4 separate regions of the Homo sapiens genome follow, and regions 2, 3 and 4 are each reported to be linked to region 1. The links are microRNA targets in miRTarBase. Many come from high-throughput screens and were not tested one by one. Region 1 holds a microRNA gene; each other region holds the end of a gene's coding sequence.

Region 1 (8,005 bases):
TGGCCTAGCGGAGGCTCTGGGAGGGTGGCTGCCAGGCCCGGCCTGGGCTTTGGGTCTCCCCGGACTACCCAGAGCTGGGATGCGTGGCTTCTGCTGCCGGGCCGACTGGCTGCTCAGGCCCCAGCCCTTGTTAATGGACTTGGAGGAATGATTCCATGCCAAAGCTTTGCAAGGCTCGCAGTGACCAGGCGCCCGACATGGTAAGAGACAGGCAGCCGCCGCTGCTGCATTTGCTTCTCTTAAAACTTTGTATTTGACGTCTTATTTCCACTAGAAGGGGAACTGGTCTTAATTGCTTGATGAAGAGCAGGAGACTCATTTATGTGAGTCTTTTGAGTGACCATTGTCTGGGTCACTCCCATTTAACTTTCCCTAAAGCCCATTTGAAGGAGAGGTCGCACGAGCTGCTCCACAACCTCTGAATGGGGATGGCATGGGTAATGATGCTTGAGAACATACCAAGCCCCACTGGCATCGCCCTTGTCTAAGTCATTGACTGTAGGTCATCATCGCACCCTTGAAAGTAGCCCATGCCTTCCAAAGCGATTTATGGTAAATGGCAGAATTTTAAGTGGCAAATTCAGATAAAATGCATTTCTTGGTTGTTTCCAATGATGACTGTTATCTAGAGGGAATTTAAAGGCAGGGGTTTACTGCAGACTCAGAAGGGAGGGGATGCTCCGGGAAGGTGGAGGCTCTGAGCATCTCAATACCCTCCTCTTGGTGCAGAAGATATGCTGCCACTTCTAGAGCAAGGGGACCTGCTCATTTTTATCACAGCACAGGCTCCTAAATTCTTGGTCTCATTCTCAAGATGTTTTAATGACTTTAAAGCAGCAAAGAAATATTCCACCCAGGTAGTGGAGGGTGGTAATGATTGGTAATGCTTTGGAACCAAAACCCAGGTGGCGCTGGGGCAGGACTGCAGGGAACTGGGGTATCAAGTAGAGGGAGACAAAAGATGGAAGCCAGCCTGGCTGTGCAGGAACCCGGCAATGAGATGGCTTTAGCTGAGACAAGCAGGTCTGGTGGGCTGACCATTTCTGGCCATGACAACTCCATCCAGCTTTCAGAAATGGACTCAGATGGGCAAAACTGACCTAAGCTGACCTAGACTAAACAAGGCTGAACTGGGCTGAGCTGAGCTGAACTGGGCTGAGTTGAACTGGGTTGAGCTGAGCTGAGCTGAGCTGGGCTAAGTTGCACCAGGTGAGCTGAGCTGAGCTGGGCTTGGCTGCACTAAGCTGGGCTGAGCTGGGCTGAGCTGGGCAGGGCTGGGCTGAGCTGAGCTGGGCTGGGCTGAGCTGGGCTGGGCTGGGCTGGGCTGAGCGGGTCTGAGCGGGGCTGAGCTGAGCTAGGCTGGGCTGGGCTGAGCTGGGCTGAGCTGGGCTGAGCTGGGCTGAGCAAGGCTAGGCTGAGCTGGGCTGAGCTGAGCTGGGCTGAGCAAGGCTAGGCTGAGCTGAGCTGAGCTGGGCTGCGCTGAGCTGGGCTGGGCTGCGCTGAGCTGGGCTGGGCTGAGCTGGGCTAGGCTGGGCTGAGCTGGGCTGAGCTAGGCTGGGCTGGGCTGGGCTGAGCGGGGCTGAGCGGGGCTGAGCTGAGCTAGGCTGGGCTGAGCGGGGCTGAGCTGAGCTAGGCTGGGCTGGGCTGGGCTGAGCCAAGCTGAACCGGGTTGAGCGTGCTGTGCTGGGCTGAGCCAAGCTAGGCTGAGCTGAGCCAAGTTGAGCTTAGCTGGGCTGAGCTAACCTGGGCAGGGCTGAGCTGGGCTGAGCTAACCTGGACTGGGGCTGAGCTAACCTGGGCAGAGCTGAGCTGGGCTGAGCTAACCTGGGCTGGGGCTGAGCTAACCTGGGCTGGGCTCAGCTGAGCTGAGCTACGCTGGGCTGGGCTGGGCTGAGCCGAGCTGAACTGGGCTGAGCAGGCTGTGTCGGGCTGAGCCAAGCTGGGCCGAGCTCAGCAGAGCTGAGCCGAGCTGAGCTTAGCTGGGCTGAGCTAACCAGGGCTGGGCTGAGCTGGGCTGAGCTGAGCTGAGCTGAACTGGGCTGAACGGGCTGAGGCGAGCAGGGCCGAGCTGAGCAGAGCTAAGCCGAGGCTGGGCTGGGCTAACCTGGGCTGGGCCGAGCTGAGCAGAGCTAAGCCGAGGCTGGGCTGGGCTAACCTGGGCTGGGCTGAGCTGAGCTGGGTTGGGCAGGGCTGGGCTGGGCTGAGCTAAGCTGAACTAGGGTGAGCTGGGCCGAGCCAGGCTGGTTTGGGCTGAGTTGAGCTGACCTGGACTGGGGCTGAGCTAACCTGGGCTGGGCTCAGCTGAGCTGAGCTACGCTGGGCTGGGCTGGGCTGAGCCGAGCTGAACTGGGCTGAGCAGGTTGTATCAGGCTAAGCCAAGCTGGGCCAAGCTCAGCAGAGCCGAGCCGAGCTGAGCTTAGCTGGGCTGAGCTAACCAGGGCTGGGCTGAGCTGGGCTGAGCTGAGCTGAGCTGAACTGGGCTGAACGGGCTGAGGCGAGCAGGGCCGAGCTGAGCAGAGCTAAGCCGAGGCTGGGCTGGGCTAACCTGGGCTGGGCTGAGCTGAGCTGGGTTGGGCAAGGCTGGGCTGGGTTGAGTTGGGCTGAGCTAAGCTGAGCTAGGGTGAGCTGGGCTGAGCCAGGCTGGATTGGGCTGAGTTGAGCTGACCTCAACTGAGCTGACCTAGGCTGAGCTGAGCTGAGCTGAAGTAGGCTGTGCTGGGCTGAGCTGGGATGACCTGGGCTGGGCTGAGCTGATTTGGGCTGGGTTGAGCAGACCTGGGCTGAGCCGGGTTGAGCTGAGCTGAACCAGGATGAGCTGGGCTGAGCTGAGCTGGGCTGGGTGGTCCAGGCTGGGCTGACCTGGACCAGGCTGGGCCAGGTTGAGCTGGGCTAAGCCGAGCTGAGCTGAGCTGAGCTGGGATGATCTGGGCTGGGCTGGGCTGGGCTGAGCTGACCTGGGCTGGGCTGGGCTGAGCTGAGCTGAGCTGAGTTAAGCTGAGCTGAGCTGAACTGGGCTGTGCTGAGCTAGGCTGGGCTGGGCTGAGCTGGGCTGGGCTGGGCTGAGCCAGATTGTGCCTGGCTGAACTGAGCTGGGCTAAGCTGAGCTGGGCTGAGCTGGGCTGAGCTGAGCTGGGCTGAGTGGGGCGGGGCTGAGCTGAGCCGGACTGGGCTGGGCTGGGCTCAGCTGAGCTGAGCTGAACTGGGCTGGGCTGAACTGGGCTGGGCTGAGCTGAGCTGAACTGGGCTGGGCTGAACTGGGCTGGGCTGAGCTGAGCTTGGATGAGCTGGGCTGAACTGGGCTGGGTTGAGCTGGGCTGGGCTGAGTTGAGCCAGACTGATCTGGGCTGAGCCGAGCTGGGTTAAGCCGAGCTGGGTTGGGCTGGGCTGGGTTGGGCTGGGCTGAGCCGGACTGGGTTGGGCTGAGCTGAGCTGGACTGGGCTGAGCTGAGCTGGTCTGGGCTGGCTGAGCTGAGCTGTGTTGAGCCAAGCTAGGCTGGGCTGGGCTGAGCTGGGCTGAACTGGGCTGAGCGGAGCTGAGCTGAGCTGGGCTGGGTTGAGCAGAGCTGGGGGCTGAGCTGGGCTGGGCTGGGCTGAGTTAAGCTGGGCTGACCTGGGCTGAGTTAAGCTGGGCTGACCTGGGCTGAGCTAAGCTGGGTTGAGCCGATCCGGGCTGGGCTGGGCTGGGCTGAGCCAGGCTAGGTTGAGCTGGGCTGGGCTGGGCTCTGCTGTGCTGTGCTGAACAGGGCTGAGCTGAACTGAGCTGAGCTGGGCTGAGCTGGGCTCTGCTGTGCTGTGCTGAGCAGGGCTGAGCTGAACTGTGCTGAGCTGGGTTGAGCTAAGCTAGGCTGGGCTGGGCTGAGCTGGGATGAGCTGGGCTGGGCTGGGCTGGGCTCTGCTGTGCTGTGCTGAACAGGGCTGAGCTGAACTGAGCTGAGCTGGGCTGAGCTGAGCTCTGCTGTGCTGTGCTGAGCAGGGCTGAGCTGAACTGGGCTGAGCTGGGCTGAGCCGGGCTGAGTTGAGCAGAGCTGGGTTGAGCAGAGCTGGGCTGGGCTGGGCTGAGTTGAGCCAGGCTGACCTGGGCTGAGCCAAGCTGGGTTGAGCCAAACTGGGCTGGGCTGGGCTGAGCCAGGCTGGATTGAGCTGGGCTGGGCTGGGCTAAGCTGGGCTGTGCTGCACTGAGCTGGGCTGAGCTGGGTTGAACTGTGCTGAGCTGAGCTGGGCTGTGCTGAACTATGCTTAGCTGGGCTGGGCTATACTGGGCTTAGCTGGGCTGGGCTAAACTGGGCTTAGCTGGGCTGGGCTATACTGGGCTTAGCTGGGCTGGGCTATACTGGGCTTAGCTGGGCTGGGCTATACTGGGCTTAGCTGGGCTGGGCTGAGCTGAGATGGTCTTAGGTGGTCTGAGCTCAGCTAGGCTGGGCTGAGCTGGTCTGAGCTCATCTGAGTTGGGCTGAGCTGAGCTTGGCTTTGCTGAGCTGGGGTGGGGTGGGCTGGGCTGGATTGAGCTGGCCTGGGCTGGGATGAACTGGATTGAGCTGGCCTGGGCTGGGATGAACTGGAGGACATGGCACTGGGCCAATCTTCATGATCTTGTTGGACATAGATGGATAGCCTCAGCTGAGTCTACACTGCGTTCCCCATCACACTCACCCTCCCTATACTCACTCCCAGGCCTGGGTTGTCTGCCTGGGGAGACTTCAGGGTAGCTGGAGTGTGACTGAGCTGGGGGCAGCAGAAGCTGGGCTGGAGGGACTCTATTGGCTGCCTGCGGGGTGTGTGGCTCCAGGCTTCACATTCAGGTATGCAACCTGGGCCCTCCAGCTGCATGTGCTGGGAGCTGAGTGTGTGCAGCACCTACGTGCTGATGCCTCGGGGGAAAGCAGGCCTGGTCCACCCAAACCTGAGCCCTCAGCCATTCTGAGCAGGGAGCCAGGGGCAGTCAGGCCTCAGAGTGCAGCAGGGCAGCCAGCTGAATGGTGGCAGGGATGGCTCAGCCTGCTCCAGGAGACCCCAGGTCTGTCCAGGTGTTCAGTGCTGGGCCCTGCAGCAGGATGGGCTGAGGCCTGCAGCCCCAGCAGCCTTGGACAAAGACCTGAGGCCTCACCACGGCCCCGCCACCCCTGATAGCCATGACAGTCTGGGCTTTGGAGGCCTGCAGGTGGGCTCGGCCTTGGTGGGGCAGCCACAGCGGGACGCAAGTAGTGAGGGCACTCAGAACGCCACTCAGCCCCGACAGGCAGGGCACGAGGAGGCAGCTCCTCACCCTCCCTTTCTCTTTTGTCCTGCGGGTCCTCAGGGAGTGCATCCGCCCCAACCCTTTTCCCCCTCGTCTCCTGTGAGAATTCCCCGTCGGATACGAGCAGCGTGGCCGTTGGCTGCCTCGCACAGGACTTCCTTCCCGACTCCATCACTTTCTCCTGGAAATACAAGAACAACTCTGACATCAGCAGCACCCGGGGCTTCCCATCAGTCCTGAGAGGGGGCAAGTACGCAGCCACCTCACAGGTGCTGCTGCCTTCCAAGGACGTCATGCAGGGCACAGACGAACACGTGGTGTGCAAAGTCCAGCACCCCAACGGCAACAAAGAAAAGAACGTGCCTCTTCCAGGTGAGGGCCGGGCCCAGCCACCGGGACAGAGAGGGAGCCGAAGGGGGCGGGAGTGGCGGGCACCGGGCTGACACGTGTCCCTCACTGCAGTGATTGCTGAGCTGCCTCCCAAAGTGAGCGTCTTCGTCCCACCCCGCGACGGCTTCTTCGGCAACCCCCGCAAGTCCAAGCTCATCTGCCAGGCCACGGGTTTCAGTCCCCGGCAGATTCAGGTGTCCTGGCTGCGCGAGGGGAAGCAGGTGGGGTCTGGCGTCACCACGGACCAGGTGCAGGCTGAGGCCAAAGAGTCTGGGCCCACGACCTACAAGGTGACCAGCACACTGACCATCAAAGAGAGCGACTGGCTCGGCCAGAGCATGTTCACCTGCCGCGTGGATCACAGGGGCCTGACCTTCCAGCAGAATGCGTCCTCCATGTGTGTCCCCGGTGAGTGACCTGTCCCCAGGGGCAGCACCCACCGACACACAGGGGTCCACTCGGGTCTGGCATTCGCCACCCCGGATGCAGCCATCTACTCCCTGAGCCTTGGCTTCCCAGAGCGGCCAAGGGCAGGGGCTCGGGCGGCAGGACCCCTGGGCTCGGCAGAGGCAGTTGCTACTCTTTGGGTGGGAACCATGCCTCCGCCCACATCCACACCTGCCCCACCTCTGACTCCCTTCTCTTGACTCCAGATCAAGACACAGCCATCCGGGTCTTCGCCATCCCCCCATCCTTTGCCAGCATCTTCCTCACCAAGTCCACCAAGTTGACCTGCCTGGTCACAGACCTGACCACCTATGACAGCGTGACCATCTCCTGGACCCGCCAGAATGGCGAAGCTGTGAAAACCCACACCAACATCTCCGAGAGCCACCCCAATGCCACTTTCAGCGCCGTGGGTGAGGCCAGCATCTGCGAGGATGACTGGAATTCCGGGGAGAGGTTCACGTGCACCGTGACCCACACAGACCTGCCCTCGCCACTGAAGCAGACCATCTCCCGGCCCAAGGGTAGGCCCCACTCTTGCCCCTCTTCCTGCACTCCCTGGGACCTCCCTTGGCCTCTGGGGCATGGTGGAAAGCACCCCTCACTCCCCCGTTGTCTGGGCAACTGGGGAAAAGGGGACTCAACCCCAGCCCACAGGCTGGTCCCCCCACTGCCCCGCCCTCACCACCATCTCTGTTCACAGGGGTGGCCCTGCACAGGCCCGATGTCTACTTGCTGCCACCAGCCCGGGAGCAGCTGAACCTGCGGGAGTCGGCCACCATCACGTGCCTGGTGACGGGCTTCTCTCCCGCGGACGTCTTCGTGCAGTGGATGCAGAGGGGGCAGCCCTTGTCCCCGGAGAAGTATGTGACCAGCGCCCCAATGCCTGAGCCCCAGGCCCCAGGCCGGTACTTCGCCCACAGCATCCTGACCGTGTCCGAAGAGGAATGGAACACGGGGGAGACCTACACCTGCGTGGTGGCCCATGAGGCCCTGCCCAACAGGGTCACCGAGAGGACCGTGGACAAGTCCACCGGTAAACCCACCCTGTACAACGTGTCCCTGGTCATGTCCGACACAGCTGGCACCTGCTACTGACCCTGCTGGCCTGCCCACAGGCTCGGGGCGGCTGGCCGCTCTGTGTGTGCATGCAAACTAACCGTGTCAACGGGGTGAGATGTTGCATCTTATAAAATTAGAAATAAAAAGATCCATTCAAAAGATACTGGTCCTGAGTGCACGATGCTCTGGCCTACTGGGGCGGCGGCTGTGCTGCACCCACCCTGCGCCTCCCCTGCAGAACACCTTCCTCCACAGCCCCCACCCCTGCCTCACCCACCTGCGTGCCTCAGTGGCTTCTAGAAACCCCTGAATTCCCTGCAGCTGCTCACAGCAGGCTGACCTCAGACTTGCCATTCCTCCTACTGCTTCCAGAAAGAAAGCTGAAAGCAAGGCCACACGTATACAGGCAGCACACAGGCATGTGTGGATACACATGGACAGACACGGACACACACAAACACATGGACACACAGAGACGTGCTAACCCATGGGCACACACATACACAGACATGGACCCACACACAAACATATGTGGACACACATGTACAAACATGCACAGGCACACAAAGAGAACACTGACTACAGGCACACACACACACGGGCACACACATGGATATGTGCACACATGGACACATACATGTGCAGGACATGCACACACACAGACACACTAGCACAGAGGCATACACACACAGACACACACATTCACAAACACACATGTGCATGCAAACACACACACATGTACAGACACAAGTACATGGACACATGCACACCCAGAGACACACTGACACAGACACACAGGAGCATGTGATACACTAACACGTGGACACACACGTCTACCCACAGGCACACAACAGATGGACACGCGTACAC
Region 2 (7,948 bases), not on the chromosome of region 1:
GGCCGAATGAAACGATTCAGAAACTTTTGGGGCACGCGGAGGAGCTCAAACGTGGGCAGGGCTAAAGCAACAGGGAATTATTCAAATATAACTGGGTGGGGTCGGATTCCAGGCGATTCCAGGTCTGCGAAAATTAGAAGGGTCTGGAGCTGTGTGCCTGAATCCTGGATGGGCGGGGCCTGGAAGAGAAAATAAGCGAAGCCCCAGAGGGGAGGGGTCGAACTAAAAACAGTAAAGAAAAAAAAAATATGTATATATATATATATATATATATATATATATATATATATATATCTTTTTGAGACAGGGTCTCGCTCTGTTGCCCAGGCTGGAGTGCAGTGATACGATCACGGCTCACTGCAGCCTCGACCTCCCGGGCTCAGGTGATCCTCCCACCTAAGCCTCCTGAGTAGCTGGGATCACAGGTGTGTTCCACCGCGCCTGGCTAAATGTTAATTTTTGTAGAGACGGGGTCTCGCTATGTTTCCCAGGCTGGTCTCAAACTCCTGGGCTTAAGCGATCCGCCTGCCTCGGCCTCCCTAAGTGCTGGGGTTATAGGCGTGAGCCACCGCGCCCGGCCAAGTATGGTATTTACAGGTTTTGAGGCTGGGGGCTGTACCACTGAGGTGGGAGGAGCTTGGACTGAGTGTTGTGTTGAGAACACAGATTCTAGAATTAGTTTCCCTGGAACACCGGTTACTTCTGTGACTCTGTTTCTTCTTCCATATGTAAACTGGAGATGATGATGTATAACAGTGTGTGACACATTAGTACTATGTAATAGTTTGCCACTGGTACAGTATTATCTTTTTTCTTTTTTTTTCCTGATTCAGATCCCAAACCCCGCTTTGTAGGTGCAGGAAACAGGAGACCCAGAAGTGTAATTCCTTCTAGTGACCCGCCTAAAGAGCAGGTCAAAGGACAGGAAGGAGATTTAGATGGTTTAAAATCTCACAGCGGAGGGGATTAATGGAGGGGGCGGGCAGGTGTACAGGGTGGAGCCTTCCTGATCCCAGGGCTGAAGGATGGCGGTCCTGGCCCGCCAGCTGCAGCGTCTCCTCTGGACCGCTTGCAAGAAAAAGGAGAGGGAGAAGGAGGGGAGGGAGGAAGAGGAGGAGGAGGAGGCGGGGCGCAGGGCCCCCGAAGGGCCTCGGTCTCTGTTGACAGCGCCGCGCCGCGCCCAGCGGCCGCACGGGGGTGCCGAGGCGTCTGGGGGCCTGCGCTTCGGGGCGAGCGCAGCGCAAGGCTGGCGCGCGCGCATGGAGGATGCTCACTGCACTTGGCTTTCGTTACCTGGTCTGCCCCCGGGCTGGGCCTTGTTTGCCGTCCTCGACGGCCACGGTGGGGCTCGAGCTGCCCGCTTCGGTGCACGCCATTTGCCAGGCCATGTGCTCCAGGAGCTGGGCCCGGAGCCTAGCGAGCCCGAGGGCGTGCGCGAGGCGCTGCGCCGAGCCTTCTTGAGCGCCGACGAGCGCCTGCGCTCCCTCTGGCCCCGCGTGGAAACGGGCGGCTGCACGGCCGTGGTGTTGCTGGTCTCCCCGCGGTTTCTGTACCTGGCGCACTGCGGTGACTCCCGCGCGGTGCTGAGCCGCGCTGGCGCCGTGGCCTTCAGCACAGAGGACCACCGGCCCCTTCGACCCCGGGAACGCGAGCGCATCCACGCCGCTGGCGGCACCATCCGCCGCCGCCGCGTCGAGGGCTCTCTGGCCGTGTCGCGAGCGTTGGGCGACTTTACCTACAAGGAGGCTCCGGGGAGGCCCCCCGAGCTACAGCTCGTTTCTGCGGAGCCAGAGGTGGCCGCACTGGCACGCCAGGCTGAGGACGAGTTCATGCTCCTGGCCTCTGATGGCGTCTGGGACACTGTGTCTGGTGCTGCCCTGGCGGGACTGGTGGCTTCACGCCTCCGCTTGGGCCTGGCCCCAGAGCTTCTCTGCGCGCAGCTGTTGGACACGTGTCTGTGCAAGGTCCTGGGGGCGTGGCGTGGTACCTTTGGGGCTTGGTGCAGCAGAGGGAGAGAGCCTCGGGGTTTTGGGGAGGAGGGCTTTGATAGAGAGGCAAGAGTAAAGCTAGCAAAGGAGGGGATAGGACTCAAGCGAAGGGCGTGGCCTGAAGTGGGCAGGGCCAAAATACAGGGGCGGAGCCTGAGGGATGCTTTGAGGCACGGGAGAGTTAGTGGAAGGGACTTAAGAGAAAGGGCGTGGTCTTTTGGAAAGGGGCGATTCTGGGTCGTAGGAGCCGGGCCGGAAGTATTGATTAGTGCTGGAAGGTGGAAGAGCAGGTAAACATCAGAGCGGGCGGAGCTTTAGGGAAAAGGCATTGTTCTCTCAATTGGGAGCGCCTAGGACCGGGTTTGGTCCCAGTAAGAGAGGATTGGCAGGTGGGTGGGACGCGAAAGAAATGGGCATAAGTAGAATGAAGTGGGGGACTTGAACCTGGGGATTGTTGGGAAGCTCTGCCTTGGACTCTCCCCCACCGGGCTCCTTTTTCTCCACCGGCTTCAGGGCAGCCTGGACAACATGACCTGCATCCTGGTCTGCTTCCCTGGGGCCCCTAGGCCTTCTGAGGAGGCGATCAGGAGGGAGCTAGCACTGGACGCAGCCCTGGGCTGCAGAATCGCTGGTGAGCAGACTCTGGGGGCCCAGCTGGAGGGGTGGTTGGCCAGTGAAGGCTGTGCCATAACTTTTTCTTTTTTTCTTTTTTTTTTTGAGATGGAGTCTTGCTCTGTCTCCTAGGCTGGAGTGCAGTGGCGTGATCTTGGCTCACTGCAACCTCTGCCTTCCGGGTTCAAGCGATTCTCCTGCCTCAGCCTCCTGAGTAGCTGGGATTACAGGCATGCACAATCACACCCAGCTAATTTTTGTATTGTTAGTATAGACGGGGTTTCACGATGTTGTCCAGGCTGGTCTCGAACCCCTGGCCTCAAGTGATCCGCCCGCCTTGGTCTCCCAAAGTGCTGGGATTACAGGCGTGCGCCACTGTGCCCAGCCTAACTCTTGACTCTTTCTCAGAACTGTGTGCCTCTGCTCAGAAGCCCCCCAGCCTGAACACAGTTTTCAGGACTCTGGCCTCAGAGGACATCCCAGATTTACCTCCTGGGGGAGGGCTGGACTGCAAGTGAGTTGGGGTGAGGAAGGGTGGGGTGGAATGAGGGTGGGGTGGAAGGAGGAGAGTCCCCTCCTGAGGGCCTTCCTGTGCTCTCCAGGGCCACTGTCATTGCTGAAGTTTATTCTCAGATCTGCCAGGTCTCAGAAGAGTGCGGAGAGGTAAGGATCCTGTGTTCTCCAGTGTTTCTCTTAGGAGGGGACGCCCCCCCGCCCACCCCTCTTAGTGACAGGGAAATTGAAGCCAGTGAGGATAAGGGATTTGCCTGATATATTTTATTCCTCTTTTCTCTTCTTTCTTTCTCTTTTTTTCTTTTCTTCCTTCCTTTCTTTTCTCTCTCTCTTTTTTTTTAGACTGGGTCTCACTATGTTGCCCAGGCTGGTCTCAAACTCCTGGGCTCAAGGGATCCTCCTGCTTTGGCCTCCCAAAGTGCTGGGATTACAGGCGGGAGCCACTGCAACCCAGCCAGCTTGCTATATTAATACATTCCTACTCCCAGCCCTGAAGCATTGTGCAAGGCATGAGGAGGGAGACGCAGATGCAGAGAAGAGACTGTGATTCCCCTCCAAGAAATGTGAGCCGGCAACGCTCTGCAGTGCCCCATCAGCCCAAGTGCTTCCCACATCCAAGAATAAGATGGAAACATTCAGGGAATGCTAATGACCAATTCTAAGGCCTAGACGCACAGCAGATACCATCAGGACATACATGAGTATGATCCAGGTCTTAGACAAGAGAAGCTGTAATGGGGCCCAGATAGCTAAGGAGAATTTGGAGATATCCAAAGATGTATAGTGGTGGACCAAGGCATGGAGTGGCATCAGGGAAGAAATGGGAGGGAGGAAGCTGGGTTTAGAGCCCCAAGGCCTTTGCATGGCAGAGGTGGGAGTTTGGTGATTATCATGTTGATGAGGGAGGATTGTTGACAATTTCTCAGTAGCTGAAGGAGGTATTTGTCAGTTTTCTTTGAGTCGTGAGAGATGGAAGCCCAATTCAAGCTGGGAAAACAAAACAGGGAATTTACTGGGCCATGTAATTGAAGAGTTTAGAGTCTTAAGGCATGGCTGCATCTAGTTGTCAGATGATGTCATCATGAATGGTCTCTTTTTATTTTCTCCGAGTTGGCTTCATTACCTTTCAGGGTCTCCTCCTAAGGTAGCGGAGACTTGCAGCTCCAGGCTTACACCCCAGCAGCCTGTCCTCCCCAGTGGAGAAAGTTTGCCAATTTCCCCGGAGTTGCAGCAGTGGTCTTTGGGGGCTGGTTCTCATTGGCCACACCAGGTCACATGCTGACCAGTCACTGTGTCTGATTGGCCAGGCTGGGGTCGCACTTGGGGTTGGGGTCCACTCCATTCAAACCTTAATGGATTGTGAGATGGGATATGGTGGTCCCTCAAAGGAAAAGGAAGAGGTGCCAGGAGACAAGACAGAATTTCTCATTACCTTCTCCCACATTTTGTGTTACAGAAGGGGCAGGATGGGGCTGGGAAGTCCAACCCCACGCATTTGGGCTCAGCCTTGGACATGGAGGCCTGACAGCTGTTGTCCTTTGGGGATCCTTTGCTTCTCTGGGGCCTCAACAGAACTAAAGAAGAAAACCGACCCTTTCCCCAACTACATGTACCAGCGGAAGGAAGGAAGGCCAATGTAGGAACCCAAAATGCTTATTTCTTCTTCTCTTACTTCCCTCTCACAGAAAAGTCTTACGAATGGGGAAATTCCACCAACATCCAGACCAAAAAGAAAAAAGCCCAAATCGAAAAAAAAAAAAAAAAAAAAAAAAAACAAAAAAACCCAACCAAATGTTTTTGAAATATTCAGAGCCGAACAGATTCTGAGAGATAACCCAGTCCAATAACCTCTTTCCTTCTTATTACTCATCTGTTTTTGAGGGGAAGTAGAGTTTTGATTATTAAACTTTATTTACATAAGTGATTCCAAATACATTTTCTTGTAAAAAACAAGAAGACATGTTTTGCCTAGTCTGTTAGCAAATACGTTACAGGGCACCTGCTGTGTGCCAGGTCTTAGCCTCACAGTCATGAACCAGGCTGACCCACCAAGATCCTTGCCACTGTGGGGCTGACCTCTTGGTCAGGAGACGCAGCAAACAAGGGAATCAATAAATAAAGTCATCTCGCCAGGCGCAGTGGTCCACATCTGTAATCTCAGCACTTGGGGGAGTCTGAGGTGGGAGGATCACTTGAGCCCAAGAGTTCGAGACCAGCCTGGGCAACATAGCAAGATGCAATCTGTAATTTTTTTTTTTTTTTTTTTTTTTGAGACGGAGTCTCGCTCTGTCACCCAGGCTGGAGTGCAAGGGTGCTCTCTCGGCTCACTGCAAGCTCCGCCTCCCGGGTTCATGCCATTCTCCCGCCCAGTCTGTAATTAATACTAAAAAAATGAAGTCATCTTGCACACTGACAAGTGTCACGAAGAAAATAAAACAGGAGGATGTGTTGAGAAAATGACTAGGGGAGCTACTTCGGGTTTTTTACTTTTTCCAATTTTTAAAATTTTGATTTATTTAATTCAGGTAGTTTTGAATGGGTAATAAATTCACTTGGTTTGAAATGCAAAGAGTGCAAGATGGCATACAATGAAGTCTTTCTCTATCCCTCTCACACTTCAGCCACTCAATTTTCCGTGGTGGGGGAGGTGGCTTTTGAAACAGGGGAATCAGGAAAGGTCTCTGAGGAGGGGACAGTTGAGCAGAGACCTGACAGAGAAGAGTCAGCTCCGCAAATACCCCAAAGAGTGTTCTAAGGCAGAGGGAACAATCAGTATGAAGGCTTAGAAGCAGGATAAAATTTCCCCCCTTTTTTTTTTTTTTTTTGAGACAGAGTTTTCACTCTTGTTGCCCAGGCTGGAGTGCAATGGTGCAATCTCGGCTCACTGCAACCTCCGCCTCCTGGGTTCAAGTGATTCTCCTGCCTCAGCCTCCCAAGTAGCTGGGATTACAGGCACGTGCCACCACACCAGGCTAACTTTTTGTATTTACTACAGACAGGGTTTCACCATGTTAGTCAGGCTGGTCTCGAACTCCTGACCTTAGGTGATCCACCCAACTCGGCCTCCCAAAATGTTGGGATTACAGGCATGAGCCAGCCACCAGGTCCGGCCAAATTTGGCATTTTCAAGACAGACTTGAGACCTCCCAAGTGCGGTGGCTCACACTTGTAATCCCAGCACTTTGGGAGGCCGAGGCAGCTTGATTCCAGGAATTCGAGACCAGCATGGGCAACATAGCAAAACCTTGTCTCTACAAAAAAAAAAAAAGATCTCTGTGACCACCAAATTAACCCCACACTCTCTATCTCACTGGTAACCCTTGCAATGAGTTTAAAGTGGACTTTTTACATGTATTAATATATGGTATTCTGGGTGTTTCCTTGATTTTTTTCATTCCCTTCGTATCTCTGGCAACTTTTTATCCACTTAATGGATGTTTTCATTCTATGTCACCCACGTCATTTACACACTTCATGCCACCCGTTTTTTTAAGAGACAAGGTCTAAGTCTGTATCCCAAGCTGGAGTATAATGGCGCAATCATCGCTCACCACAGCCTCGAACTCCTGGGCTCAAGCAATCCTCCTACCTCATCTTCCCAAGTAGCTGGGACCACAGATGGATGATACCACACCCAGTTAATTTTTTTTTTTTTTTTAGAGATGGGGTCTCGGCCAGGCGCAGTGGCTCACACGTGTAATCCCACCACTTTGGGAGGCCCAGGTGGGCAGATCTTCTGAGGTCAGGAGTTCGAGACCAGCCTGACCAACATGGAGAAACCCCATCTCTACTAAAAAATGCAAAAATTAGCTGGGCTTGGTGGTGCATGCCTGTAATCCCAGCTACTTGGGAGGCTGAGGCAGGAGAATCGCTTGAACCCAGGAGGTGGAGGTTGCAGTGAGCCGAGATTGCGCCATTGAACTCTAGCCTGGGAAACAAGAATGAAACTCTGTCTCAAAAAAAAAAAAAAAAAAAAGAGAGAAATGGGGCCTCACTATGTTGTCCAGGCTGGTCTCAAACTCCCTGACCTCAAGTGATCCTCCTGCCTTGGCTTCTCAAAGCACCAAAGCACTGGGATTACAGGCATGACACACCTTGCCCAGTCCACACCTCCTTAAGTTGCTGCTCACTCCGTGCTTCAGAAAAGGATGTCCAAGGGTTTCACTATTCCCTGCCCTCATCTTTTTTTTGTTTTGTTTTGTTTAATTTTTTTTGAGGAGTCTTGCTCTGTCTCCCAGGCTGGAGTGTAGTGTCACGATCTTGGCTCACTGCAACCTCCGCCTCCGGGGTTCAAGTGATCCTCCCACCTCAGCCCCTCAGCCACCCAAGTAGCTGGGATTACAGGTGTGTGCCACCATGCCTGGTTAATTTTTTGTTTTTGGTAGAAACGGGGTTTCACCATGTTGGCCAGGCTGGTCTTGAACTCCTGACCTCAAGTGATCCACCCGCCTCGGCCTCCCAAAGTGCTGGGATTACAGGCGTGAGCCACTGTGCCCAGCCTCCCCTGTCCTCTTGATGAACATTTAAGCTATTTCCAATTTCTTGCTCTCACATCACTGCTACCGTAAAGATCGTTATGTACATATGCAAGCGTTCTCTTACACAGGGGTCTTGCTACCTGTTTTGTACAGCACTTAAGCTAAGAAGAGTTTTTTTTACAGTTTTTAAGCCTTGTAAGAAAAAAGAAAAACTGAAGAGTGTGTAAACCAGACCCTATGTCTAGCATATCTAAAATATTTCCTATTTGAACTTTTACAGAAAATGTTTGCCGGCTGGGCCTGGTGACTCACACCTCCAATCCCAGCACTTTGGGAGGCTGAGCCAGGCTGATCACT
Region 3 (6,653 bases), not on the chromosome of region 1:
AGCTCAGGGCTAATGGTTCAGAAACTGGAATTAAACTATGAAGAGATTAGATACAGTTTGGGATTGTGGTGCTTGGAATGCTGCTCGATTGACAGGGAGCCACTGCTGATGGGAAGGGTAGGAACAGGGGATGCTGGTGACATAACCAGTGGAGAAGCTGAGGAGCCCCTCTTCACTGGTACATCCTTCCCTTTACAGTGGCTGGATCTCTGCTCTGGTGGTGCCGAAGGGCAACACAGCAGTATCCGTGCTCATGCTGCTGGTCGCCCTGCTCTTCACTGGCATTGCTGTGCTAGGAATTGTCATGCTGAAACGGGTGAGGGCTGTGTCGAAGGTGGGGCCGGGATGGTGAGATCATGGGTCCCCAGGGGCGTGGGTGGAACATTCAGGAGCAACTGGCACAGGTCAGGCTGCTGGGTTGTTCTCAGCTAATGGACCTCTGGGGTGTGTGTTTCTGTGTGTGAGTGTGTGTGCTGGGCAGCAGGCTGCTGAGTGGTAGTGATGCTGTTAGGCTGGGGTGGGGAACCAGTGGCTGGAATGGGCGGTAATGTCTTTGTCCTCTACTTGCAGATCCACTCCTTATACCGCCGCACAGGTGCCAGCTTTCAGAAGGCCCAGCAAGAATTTGCTGCTGGTGTCTTCTCCAACCCTGCGGTGCGAACCGCAGCTGCCAATGCAGCCGCTGGGGCTGCTGAAAATGCCTTCCGGGCCCCGTGACCCCTGACTGGGATGCCCTGGCCCTGCTACTTGAGGGAGCTGACTTAGCTCCCGTCCCTAAGGTCTCTGGGACTTGGAGAGACATCACTAACTGATGGCTCCTCCGTAGTGCTCCCAATCCTATGGCCATGACTGCTGAACCTGACAGGCGTGTGGGGAGTTCACTGTGACCTAGTCCCCCCATCAGGCCACACTGCTGCCACCTCTCACACGCCCCAACCCAGCTTCCCTCTGCTGTGCCACGGCTGTTGCTTCGGTTATTTAAATAAAAAGAAAGTGGAACTGGAACTGACATCCCCGTTTCCTGAATCTTCATTGGGAATTAGGCCTTATGAAAGAGAAAGGAGAGTGTGGAGTGAGGTGGGAAGGTCGGACCCGGCTTTAGTGTAAACTGGGAGATATGAGGGGCGGGGCGGTGGAGCCCGAGTGGCTGGCGCAGGAAGGAGGTGGGAAGTCCACGGAAACGCGAAACCCGGAGACGCCAGGGAGCCCTGCTCCCCACCCCTCTCCATTAATGACGGGGAAGAGCCACCGCCTCTGCCGGGAACGCCAAGGAATACGCGGGCCTGGAGCCTGAAAAGCTGGATGGGGCTCAAGTGGAGGCCCAAAGGATCACTAGCAGCCTAGCCAGGGTCCAGAGCGAGGCAGGGACTGGAGGAGCGCTTATCCGACTGCCTCGCCCTGCCGCGGGATCCCCCAACCCCGACAGGGTCTCAGTCCCGAACTACAACTCCCGGGGTGCACCGCGCCGGCCCTCGCCGCCATGCCCCTCCTTCCCGCACCATCCCCATTCCCATCCCCCTTCTCTAGTCCCCGACCTGCGGCAGCCGGAGCTCGGGGAGCGGAGCGTGGTGGGGAGGGGAGCGGGACAGGCGACACAGGAGACAGCGGCGCCGCGGCCTCTCCCCACCAGGCGGCCCCGGATCCTACTGGACGCCCTGAGGGCACACCGACCGCGCCTCTAGAGTCACCCCACGCCGACCCCTCCCCTCTTCTCTAGACTTATTTCCATCCTTCCCGCTTTTACCCTCCCCACCCCTCCCTGGGCTCCAGGCCGCCGCCCCCTCCTCACTCCTGGACCGGCCCTTCTCGGTGCCCCTCTTCCCTAGGGAGATGCGATGAGCCGGTGCCCCCGCGTCCTCATCGTCGCCCCGGGCACGGTGCCCGTCCAGTGCCCGTGGTGGGGAGGGAGCACTCCGCGGTCCCTCCGTGACGCCCCTCGCTTGGCCCCCCCCACAGCTGGCGTCCCTCGGCCATGCCCCAGGGGACCCAGCCAGGGGGTGGGCTCTAGAGCGAGTGGGGTGGAGAGGAGAAAGGACGGGGCCTTGGGCGCCTCTGAGATGCTCCCAAGTGCCAGGGAGGGCCGAGCGAGGCGCAGGCAACCGGGCAGCAGGCATGATGCCCTCGCCTAGTGACTCCAGCCGCTCGCTGACCAGCCGGCCCAGCACCAGGGGCCTTACCCACCTCCGCCTCCACCGACCCTGGCTGCAGGCCCTGCTTACGCTGGGGCTGGTCCAAGTGCTCCTGGGCATCCTGGTGGTCACCTTCAGCATGGTGGCCTCTTCCGTCACCACCACCGAGAGCATCAAGAGGTCCTGCCCGTCTTGGGCTGGGTTCTCGGTGAGTTGGGTGCACAGTTGTTGGGTGGGGGAGGCTCCTCGGGCCCCACCCTCCACACCAGCTGCAAGTCCACATGCTTGCCTCTCCTCCCTCTCCTGGTCCTCTGCCTCCTTACAGGGCTGGGTGCATCCTGTGGTGAGGGGCTCACTCAGGAGCCTCCCCTGCCAGGCTGAGCCTGTGCCCACTCTGTCCCCAGCTGGCGTTCTCCGGGGTGGTTGGCATTGTGTCCTGGAAGCGGCCATTCACTCTAGTGGTAGGTGCCAGGGTCCAGTGCCCACTGGGAGGCAGGTGCCCAGCACGCAAGGGGAAGCCCATTTATGTCCTCAAGAAGGGAACTGGCTCCCCAGTTGGTGCCAGCCGGGTGGGCACGAAGTGTCTGTGAAGGAGGGGGACTCTGTCCGTGGCAGAGGAGTACTCATGAGGGTCCCAGCCCTGAGTCTGCACCCTGTTTTCCCCAGATCTCCTTCTTCTCCTTGCTTTCGGTGCTCTGTGTCATGCTTAGCATGGCTGGCTCTGTTCTCTCCTGTAAGAATGCTCAACTGGCCCGAGACTTCCAACAGTGCTCTCTGGTGAGATTTGAGGAGGGAGAGCTGGAAAGAACTGGCTGGGGGAGGTGTGCAGGACACCTCAGTTTGTCCTGACTCAGGCTGCCTCACCCTCCCTGCTCCACTCAGGAAGGAAAGGTCTGTGTGTGCTGTCCCTCTGTTCCCCTCCTCCGGCCCTGTCCAGAGTCGGGGCAGGAACTGAAAGTTGCCCCTAACTCCACCTGTGATGAAGCCCGAGGGGCCCTCAAGGTGAGCTTGCACCCTGCAAACATCCTCCTGGTTCTCACTCTTGCCTCCCCTGCTGGGGTACTCACAGGCCCATAATGTGTGGAACTTAGCCGTCTCCTGACTCCTCTCCTCCTTTCCCTTCCCCAGAACCTGCTCTTCAGCGTCTGTGGGCTCACCATTTGTGCCGCTATAATCTGTACACTCTCTGCTATTGTCTGCTGCATCCAAATCTTCTCCCTGGACCTCGTGCATACGGTGAGAAGGGAGCAGGGGCCAGGGCACGCAGGTATGGTGGGGGCAGGGGTGTGTGTGCTGAGACTTGCCTGAGGGAACAATGGCTACAGATCTGGCTTTTGAGCACCAGGGGCTATGGGTTATCTATTATCCTCATCTATTGGAGGAATGGATGTTTAGTGGGGAGGATGAGAAGGGGAGATGGCAGGGAGTGAGTTAAGTATGTGATGCTGGTCTGGGACCAGGAGAGGGTGCTTTAGAGAATGGGACTGGATGGTGGGGTAGAGTCAAGAAGGTCCTATGCTGGGCACGGTGGCTCATTCCTGTAATCCCAGCACTTTGAGAGGCCCAGGCAGGCGGATCACCTGAGGCCAGGAGTTCAAGACCCACCTGGCCAACATGGCGAAACCCTGTCTCTATTAAAAATACAAAAATCGGGCCGGGCGCAGTGGCTCGTGCCTATAATCCCAGCACTTTGGGAGGCTGAGGAGGGCAGATCACCTGAGATCAGGAGATCGAGACTATCCTGGCTAACATGGTGAAACCCCATCTCTACTAAACATACAAAAAATTAGCCAGGCGTGGTGGCGGGCGCCTGTGGTCCCAGCTACTCGGGAGGCTGAGGCAGGAGAATGGCATGAACCTGGGAGGCAGAGCTTGCAGTGAGCTGAGATAGTGCCACTGCACTCCAGCCTGGGCGACAGAGCAAGACTCCATCTCAAAAAACAAACAAACGAAATACAAAAATTAGCCAAGTGTGGTGGCGGGTGCCTGTAATCCCAGCTACTTGGGAGTCTGAGGCAGGAAAATTGCTTGAACCGGGGAGACAGAGGCTGCAGTGAGCTGAGATGGTGCCACTGCATTCCAGCCTGGGCGACAAGAGCAAGACTCCGTCTCAAAAAAAAAAAAAAAAAAAAAAAAAATATATATATATATATATATATATATATATATACACACAAAATTACAAAAATTAGGCTGGGCTCCGTGGCTCATGCCTGTAATCCCAGCACTTTGGGAGGCCAAGGCAGGAGGATCACCAGATATCAGGAGTTTGACACCAGCCTGGCCAACATGGCGAAACCCTATCTCTACTAAAAATACAAAAATTATCCGGGTGTGGTGGCGGGTGCCTGTAATCCCAGCTACTCGGAAGACTGAGGCTGGAGAATCGCTTGAACCTGGGAGGCAGAGGTTGCAGTGAGCTGAGATGTAGCCATTGTACTCCAGCCTGGGCGACAAGAGTGAAACTTCGTCTCGAAATAATAATAATAATAATAATTAGCTGGGCATGGTTGCACACCCTTATAATTCCAGCTACTCAGGAGGATGAGGCATGGGAATTGCTTGATCTTGGGAGGTGGGGGTTGCAGTGAGCTGAGATCGCGCCACTGCACTCCAGCAACAGAGTCAGACTCTGTCTCAAAAAAAAAAAGAAGGTCCTAGATGGAGGTGAGGCTAAAGGGTGGACATTCCTGTGAAGACACAGAATGTGTGGAGCTTCTGGATGGAGGTGGGGCCATAAAGAGGAATTTGTGGGTGGGCAGGGCCAGAGCTAGAGGTACAGGGTGAGCGTGGGGTTAAGGAGAGCTGATTTTGGGTGAGGGAGGGGCCAGAACAAGAGCTTCTCTCAGGGGATAGGGCCAGAAAAAATAATGTAGATGAGAGAGGAGTTTGGGGGCCCAGGAGGAGCTGTATTCCCAGAATCCAGACTTGCTGACCTGCTCGCTTCCCCAGCAGCTGGCCCCTGAGCGGTCAGTCTCAGGCCCACTGGGACCTCTGGGCTGCACGTCCCCGCCCCCAGCCCCTCTCCTACACACCATGCTGGACCTGGAGGAATTTGTCCCGCCTGTGCCCCCACCGCCCTACTATCCCCCAGAGTATACCTGCAGCTCAGAAACAGATGCACAGAGGTAAGGCCTGGTGGGGTCTTGCTGGGGGAGCTAAGGAAGGGGACTGGGGCTGGGCCTGGATTGCTGGAGAGAGGGATCTTTGTGGAGGGGGAATTATTTCTCCTACATTGACCCTCTTCCTCATCTGCCAGCATCACGTACAATGGCTCCATGGACAGCCCAGTGCCCTTGTACCCTACCGATTGCCCCCCTTCTTATGAGGCAGTCATGGGACTACGAGGAGACAGCCAGGTGAGAGCACAGCACGGCTTGGGGCGGGCTGGGGAGCCGGGTTGTAGCCTGGAAAGCTGAACAGGCTGTAGCCTCTGGATAAAGATAGTAACAGTGGTCAAGGTCTTTACAGCACCAGCATGCCCACTGTTGCCTTTGATCTTCCCTAGAGCCTGGTGAGGTGAGTGGGTTGGAAGCTATCATTTCTGCCATACAGACGTGGAAGCTGAGGCTGCACAATTAAGTGACTTGTACAAAGGGACAAGGCTGGTCTGGAATCTAAGTCTCCAGAGCTCTGTCTAGCACATGGGGGTGTTCAGTGTGTAGGGCTGAACCCTTGACCCTGTGTCTTCTGCAGGCCACTCTCTTTGACCCTCAGCTTCACGATGGCTCGTGCATCTGTGAACGAGTGGCCTCCATTGTAGACGGTGAGCAGGGCGTAATGAGGGGTGGACAAGGGCGGGGCTGCCAGGGATAGCTGGGGTGGGTAGAGACAATAGAAGGGGAAAACAAGGCGGAGTTGGTGGTTTGGGGACATAGGAGGGCTGTGGCAACTTGGAACCCTGGACTTATTTTTCTCCTCTGAGATAAAGCTGGAGGCACAGTGGCCCCTAGAGGCTGGGCTTGGGAGAAGAGGAACTGCCTGGGCAGGGCTAGGCCAGGCCAGGCTGGTGCTACACAGCGCCCCCTGCCGCCCACAGTGTCCATGGACAGCGGGTCTCTGGTGCTGTCAGCCATTGGTGACCTCCCTGGGGGCTCTAGCCCGTCGGAGGACTCGTGCCTGCTGGAGCTGCAGGGCTCCGTGCGCTCCGTGGACTACGTTCTCTTTCGCTCCATCCAGCGCAGCCGTGCCGGCTACTGCCTCAGCCTGGACTGTGGCCTGCGGGGCCCCTTCGAGGAAAGCCCCCTGCCACGGCGCCCCCCACGGGCTGCCCGCTCCTATTCCTGCTCTGCCCCTGAAGCTCCACCCCCACTGGGTGCCCCCACAGCTGCCCGCAGCTGCCACCGGTTGGAGGGCTGGCCGCCCTGGGTGGGACCCTGCTTCCCCGAGCTGAGGCGGCGGGTCCCCCGGGGAGGGGGCCGCCCAGCCGCAGCCCCGCCCACCCGAGCCCCGACTCGTCGCTTCAGCGATAGCTCAGGTTCCCTCACCCCACCGGGGCACCGGCCTCCTCATCCGGCATCCCCA
Region 4 (5,335 bases), not on the chromosome of region 1:
TATTCCAGTTCCAGGCAGGTGACTGTATGACCTCAGGCATATTTGTACTTAACTCTCAGAGTCTTGATTTTATTGTTTACTATGAGGATAAGCATACCAACCTTACTTGGCTTTTGCAAAATTCAGATGAGACAATACATGTGAAGGTGGCTAGAACGTAATAGGCATTCAACAAATGTTGATCCCTTTTTTTTCTCAAAGTGGCTCTCATTCTGATCCACAAAAGGGCAAGTTAAAAGGGTTGAATCCTACCAGGCTCACAAGGTTAAATAATTTCTGATGTATACTGATGTAATCCATATATGCAATGTTACTTTTTCAGTCATATGTAACTTCTCAAGTTACACAGGTTACATGGCATTATTCATTGTATTTAGTTCAGTAAGTAGGCGGGAGAGAAAACTGTTGTATTTTCAGGATAAATGCTTTATGTATGCTAAAATTTAGAGGTCCAAACACTACTACAACTAAATGTTCTTTTACAAGGTTGATAATTACTTTGAAATTAAAGTAAAACTAAAATGCCTTACACTTTTTCTTCCAGCATGCTACAAGTGAAAACTGATGAGAAACTGAATGTGTCTGATGAGAATACAGCAAGTTGCCCTTTGAGCCCCATTAAGATGTGCCTTAATCGTCCCATTGAATGGAATCTGAATTTGACAACAGCATCTCTAACGAGCTGTACAGTTCATAACCAAAATCTCAAAAGCGAAGAGAAATAGATTGCAGTTCTTCTTGCACTATCTTTATTTTGTATGTCAGTATTCCTTCTGAACAATAAGCATTTATCAATTGATCTTGAAGTATTTCTAGTCCTGTGATTTGTCTTTATATTAAATCATTAGCATTAATCATTTTGATTATATTCTTTATATGTTTTTTTTACATGTTTTACATCAGATCATTGTGGAATTTTGTAAACGGATTTTGATGTTTCTCTTTTAGTGGTATTATGTGAATTTTTTATGCCCTAAGTTTAAATACGTAATTGTCCCTAGTTTTATTTCTGTGCACAAAGTTTTAATATATAACACATTGTGATTTATAAAGCTAGTATTGTAAAGATTTGTGATGATAACCTGACCCATGAGCAGTTGTAAAACAGGTGGATACCAACTACCTCGAAGCAAATTGGTGAAAGAAAAGGCAAAGGTATCTCTTAGAAGTAAATCTCCTTCAACGTTATATATGTACAGAAGAAAAAAAGTTGATCATAGCTTTTTGTCAAGTAGCATGTTTCCCATTCACAGGAAAATGTGAGCTTATCAGTTCTTTCTCTGTATTTTAAATCTAAGTCTGTGGGCTTTAAGAGCAATGGCACAATTGCATGTTTACTGTTCAGCAAATCTGTGCCTCTTGATAGAGAAAAATACTATGTGGTTTCTGTAAGTTACCAGTTTTGAATGAAAAATGGTAAATGGATTTACATCTGTTTTATTGTACCTTAGCCTTTTATTTTAAAGTTAAAGGGATGACTTTTAAAAGCAGGACATTCCCTACCTTTAATAGTGCAAAGCACAGTTTCAGCAATGGCTACATGACTATGTCTAAAAACTGAATACTCAGAATACTAAAGGTTTGGTGCTTAAATTTATTTTTCCCATGCCAGAGAAAGCAAGCTTTGGTATGGTAAACCACATGAGAACATGGCTCCTTTCTTTTTGGATAGCCTGGCCATGTGTGAATGGGATTTTAGCTTATTATGTTTCTAAGACTTTTCCTTACAGCACACTTAATGTACCTTTTCAGTCCTTCTCCCAACCCCCTGCAAATTGTCTTTAAAACAACAACACATAAGGAATCTGAAGCACAGGAGAACACAGAGCCAACAAACAGAATGAAGAACAATCATCTATTTTTAACTGACTTTCTATCATTACCATTTTTCCTTTTGCTTAATAACTATCTTGCTTTGAAACTTTGACTCCTTTTATAAGTTCTATGAGGCACATATGTATAGCAATTTGGTTCTAAAAACCAGTGATCTTACTTTAGCTCCATCTTAAAATTTCACCTTAAGTAAATGGCCTCTAGTAGATGATAAGCCTAAAAAAAGCACAATTATTAAAACAAACAGATCCATGTTAGGACATTTCTGAATAATAAAGAGAAAAGGTGTTTCGTTGGGTATTGCAGAAAAGAGGACCAATTTCATATAGTACAAGTTTCGTAAGTCAGGCCAAGTGTCAATTTCAAAAGACAAGAAATGAAATTGACAGTGAATAGTGCTCATAAATTGGTAGCGTATATAAAGAGAAGTTCCTGTCACATTATATTCCCACTAGAATTATTATCCACAGTAAATAAATATTATTTTGTTATGCCAAAAATATAGCGAGCAGCTTCATGGTTAATAATACATTTATGTTGACACCTCCCTAATCCAGGAAACATTCACAAACAAGGACTCCCATATACAAATACTTTAGGAAGAGAGATTTCCCAGGCAGATATCACCAAAAATGTTTTCACTGTAGGAATCACAAAATAAGTTTTTGTCAAAATAACTGTTGTTGAACGTTATACTGGTCTTCCTCACTGGTGATTGATAAGCTCCTTTCTAGCCAGTTTGTGGTACTTCCTTCATTTTCCCTAGAAATGTTACTTGTTAAATGTGTCCTCAGGCGGTTTCATCTTTGTTGATTCTGCCCATCTAAGTCATAAGCTTCTCAAATGCAAGCTACTAGCTAGTTACACTTGTAAGTTTTCCATAATGACATGATTTTAAACATAAAGAGTTCATAAGAATCACTTGGAGAGACTATTTAAAAATGAGATTCCTAGGCCCACCTCAGATTGTGATAAATCTGTGTGACTGACTGATGCACACTTTTTCTGGACTATAATAACTGATGCTGCTCTACTGCTTTAATACAGGCCAAAGTAACGTGGAAGCGCACAGCAGAAAATCTTCAGAAAGACATCAGGTTTGTTCTGATTTTGACAAGGGTAACTTCTTCTTTATTAAAGCAAATAACTGGACATAATCTTAAAGGATTCCACCTCCATCGTCTTTCCTAACTTAGATCTTCATTGAGAAATTGGGCAAGGTTAAGTTTACTTTTTTCTAGTGCTGCGGTTTTGGCTCGTCTTGGTAGTCTCATCTTCATTTCTGATTCTGGTTCTGGAACTTCATGATCACTAAATAGATGTTGAAAATACACGAATTTAGATACAAGCTTTAAAACCAGTTTATTTATAAATAAAACTTTTTTGTTTCTGACTCACATTCTATCAGTGTTTAATTGATAGCCTGATTCCATTGACTTAGCTTAAAACTAAAATCTCAATGTCAAAAAAACACTGACTTGGCTATCTAGCAAAGTGAATCAGGGAAAATCTAGCTAATGATTTTATATACTATAACAGAACCTGGTGTTATACAGGAAAAAAAGCCACAAACTTGTAATGAAGCTTGTAATTAAACGAGGACCATAACTGTCCAAAAGAGATTTCTTTGAAACTCAAGAAGTGACAAAAAAATTAAGTTCTCTCTCTTGATTTAAGCAATAAATTCCAAAAACATAGTAAAAAACAAGTTTCCCCCCAAAAAAGACAAATTTAATCAACAGTGTAAAACTATGTACTGAAAATACACACAATACAATTTTGCAAATGAATACAAGACAGCTACCAACTTTCAGCTCTAACAGTGGCTTGACTGACAGAAGCCAAAAATAAAACACTCTACCACACAATATACCCAAATTATAGACAGAATTATTCTATCAGTATGTAAGTGTAGAGAACCCAAATATTATCAAAATCAAGAGTTTGCTAACTGAAGATCAAAGAGGAGTCACATCATGTAATTAAAAATTGAAACAACATATTAAAGATAGTACTAAAGACCATGCCAGCTAATAGGCAAAAGCAAACACGCCGTAAGAAGTCAAATGCTCTTGATGATGGAATTTTAGACTATATACCTAAGACAGCTATTTATAGTTTTCACTATCTTGTTATATATTCTCTCTCATTCGCAAGAAAATTAGTTTTTTTCTACTTGTAGAAATAAAAAGTGAAGATAGGCCTCCATATATTCTAGACATGCATGACATACCTTTCAGAGTCGGCTTCAGCAGTCTGACACCTCCTGTTCGTCCTAGCTGAAACTGTCACTTTTCTCTGTCCTTGAAGATAGTATAATTCATTATCAGGATTTATTATCAGTTGCTTTTTGTTTTTAATCTAGTTTCTAGGCTAACTAAATCCTTTGTCTTCAACACAACAATCCTTTCAACACATGTATCTCCTACTTGTTCTAGCCATCTTGGTACCAGTTATCACTGCCACAGAAAAAGGAACCCAAGCAAGATTAAAACTTAATTTATTTTGTAAGCACTAATAATGAGTAAGGGAAAATAAGGAAATTTCAAGCAAGTTAAAAGAAGGCAAATTTTAGTTCAATGTATTTGAGGACAGTATATGAAAAATGTGTTATAATGAAGTACCTCTATTATTGCTATAGCACAAAGTCTGTGGAGACTCATGAAAATTAAGGGTTAGAAAGGTAGGTTAGGTGCATAAACAGGTGCTAAAGAAACAACTTTTTTTTTTCTTGGAAGGTGATAAAACATAGTAAGGTAATAATGGCTTCTTGTAAAATAACATACATGACCAATTCAAATGTGTTCTAAAATATATTTCAATGTAAAAACTAGAACCTTTATATACTGGGGATTATAAGATTCTACTTACTAGAAATTTACAAGGTTAAGGAGTAAGACAAAGTTTGGCTTGTGATGTTTCTCATTTATAAGGAATAAAACAATATGAATATATGAAGTTTGGTCTATTAAAAAGGATGGTGTTCTCATGGTGTGATATACCACAAAAAAAATCTGATCAAAACCAAACTGTTCAATGTGACAGTCTGAAAATTATATACTCTACTTCATTCATGTTACACTTTTTTCTACTCCTTACCTGCTTTTACTAATGCATTTATCCCCAAGAAAACATCCAACAATATGGGACTAATTTGGAACAATATCCAGCAATTGGTATTTAAATAATTTACTGGTTACAAAACAATATTATGACCAGACTCCATTTTAGAAAAAATTAAATCTGCATCGAAAAGGGCCTTAAAAAATAGATTTCTAAAATCAAAATCATGGTTGGCTCATGGGTGGGATTATTAGTGTTCCTTATAGTAGTTTGTCTGGATGTACTTTCTGATTCTTCTGTAATAAGCATGCATTGCTTTTGTAATGAGGAAATAATAAAACAATAAAAAGATCTTGAATTTCAGATTTTTTTCCAAGTGACCCCCTAATAGTCAGCATTTACTTTGCCAACAGATCCCCTATTGTTGGATAGCCCTTGG

Evidence for each region. The annotated mature microRNA hsa-miR-4507 reads CUGGGUUGGGCUGGGCUGGG and lies in region 1 at 3,370-3,389, shown strand. An mRNA with a match to its seed (bases 2 to 7 or 8) in the 3' UTR can be bound and repressed. Matches are read on the target gene's strand: a 7mer-m8 pairs with bases 2 to 8, a 7mer-A1 pairs with bases 2 to 7 and ends in A, and an 8mer does both.
Region 2: miRTarBase lists PPM1N as a target of hsa-miR-4507. Seed matches in the 3' UTR shown: 7mer-A1 at 4,755-4,761 and 7mer-A1 at 4,894-4,900.
Region 3: miRTarBase lists SCAMP3 as a target of hsa-miR-4507. Seed matches in the 3' UTR shown: 7mer-m8 at 934-940.
Region 4: miRTarBase lists LCORL as a target of hsa-miR-4507. Seed matches in the 3' UTR shown: 7mer-A1 at 3,751-3,757 and 7mer-A1 at 4,309-4,315.

The regions. Positions count from the first base shown.
Region 1 is chr14:105,853,509-105,861,513 of GRCh38, reverse strand. MIR4507 (microRNA 4507) reads left to right here and starts at 3,339; the gene lies at 3,339-3,390. It overlaps MIR4539 (microRNA 4539), which reads left to right and starts at 3,942; the gene lies at 3,942-4,001. MIR4538 (microRNA 4538) reads left to right here and starts at 3,272; the gene lies at 3,272-3,349. It overlaps MIR4537 (microRNA 4537), which reads left to right and starts at 1,961; the gene lies at 1,961-2,030. It also overlaps IGH and IGHM.
Region 2 is chr19:45,497,448-45,505,395 of GRCh38, forward strand. It overlaps PPM1N (protein phosphatase, Mg2+/Mn2+ dependent 1N (putative)), which reads left to right and starts at 996. Exons shown (of 5, transcript NM_001080401.2): 1 at 996-1,964; 2 at 2,502-2,619; 3 at 3,009-3,114; 4 at 3,203-3,263; 5 at 4,570-5,066. The coding sequence starts at 1,026. The coding sequence ends at 4,638. LOC107985314 (a long non-coding RNA gene) reads right to left here. Exons shown (of 2, transcript XR_007067269.1): 2 at 3,363-4,100. RefSeq lists a silencer at 1,224-1,293.
Region 3 is chr1:155,250,337-155,256,989 of GRCh38, reverse strand. It overlaps SCAMP3 (secretory carrier membrane protein 3), which reads left to right. Exons shown (of 9, transcript NM_005698.4): 8 at 199-316; 9 at 571-1,009. The coding sequence ends at 717. ENTREP3 (endosomal transmembrane epsin interactor 3) reads left to right here and starts at 1,507. Exons shown (of 12, transcript NM_006589.3): 1 at 1,507-2,337; 2 at 2,534-2,590; 3 at 2,796-2,906; 4 at 3,012-3,131; 5 at 3,258-3,365; 6 at 5,085-5,257; 7 at 5,389-5,488; 8 at 5,826-5,895; 9 at 6,169-6,653. The coding sequence starts at 2,113. RefSeq lists an enhancer at 6,473-6,653.
Region 4 is chr4:17,841,111-17,846,445 of GRCh38, reverse strand. It overlaps LCORL (ligand dependent nuclear receptor corepressor like), which reads left to right. Exons shown (of 8, transcript NM_001394446.1): 8 at 545-5,259. The coding sequence ends at 558. It overlaps NCAPG (non-SMC condensin I complex subunit G), which reads right to left. Exons shown (of 21, transcript NM_022346.5): 20 at 4,067-4,136; 21 at 1,581-3,144. The coding sequence ends at 3,021. Among named protein-coding and RNA genes, the nearest start is that of NCAPG, 33 kb to the right of the region's middle.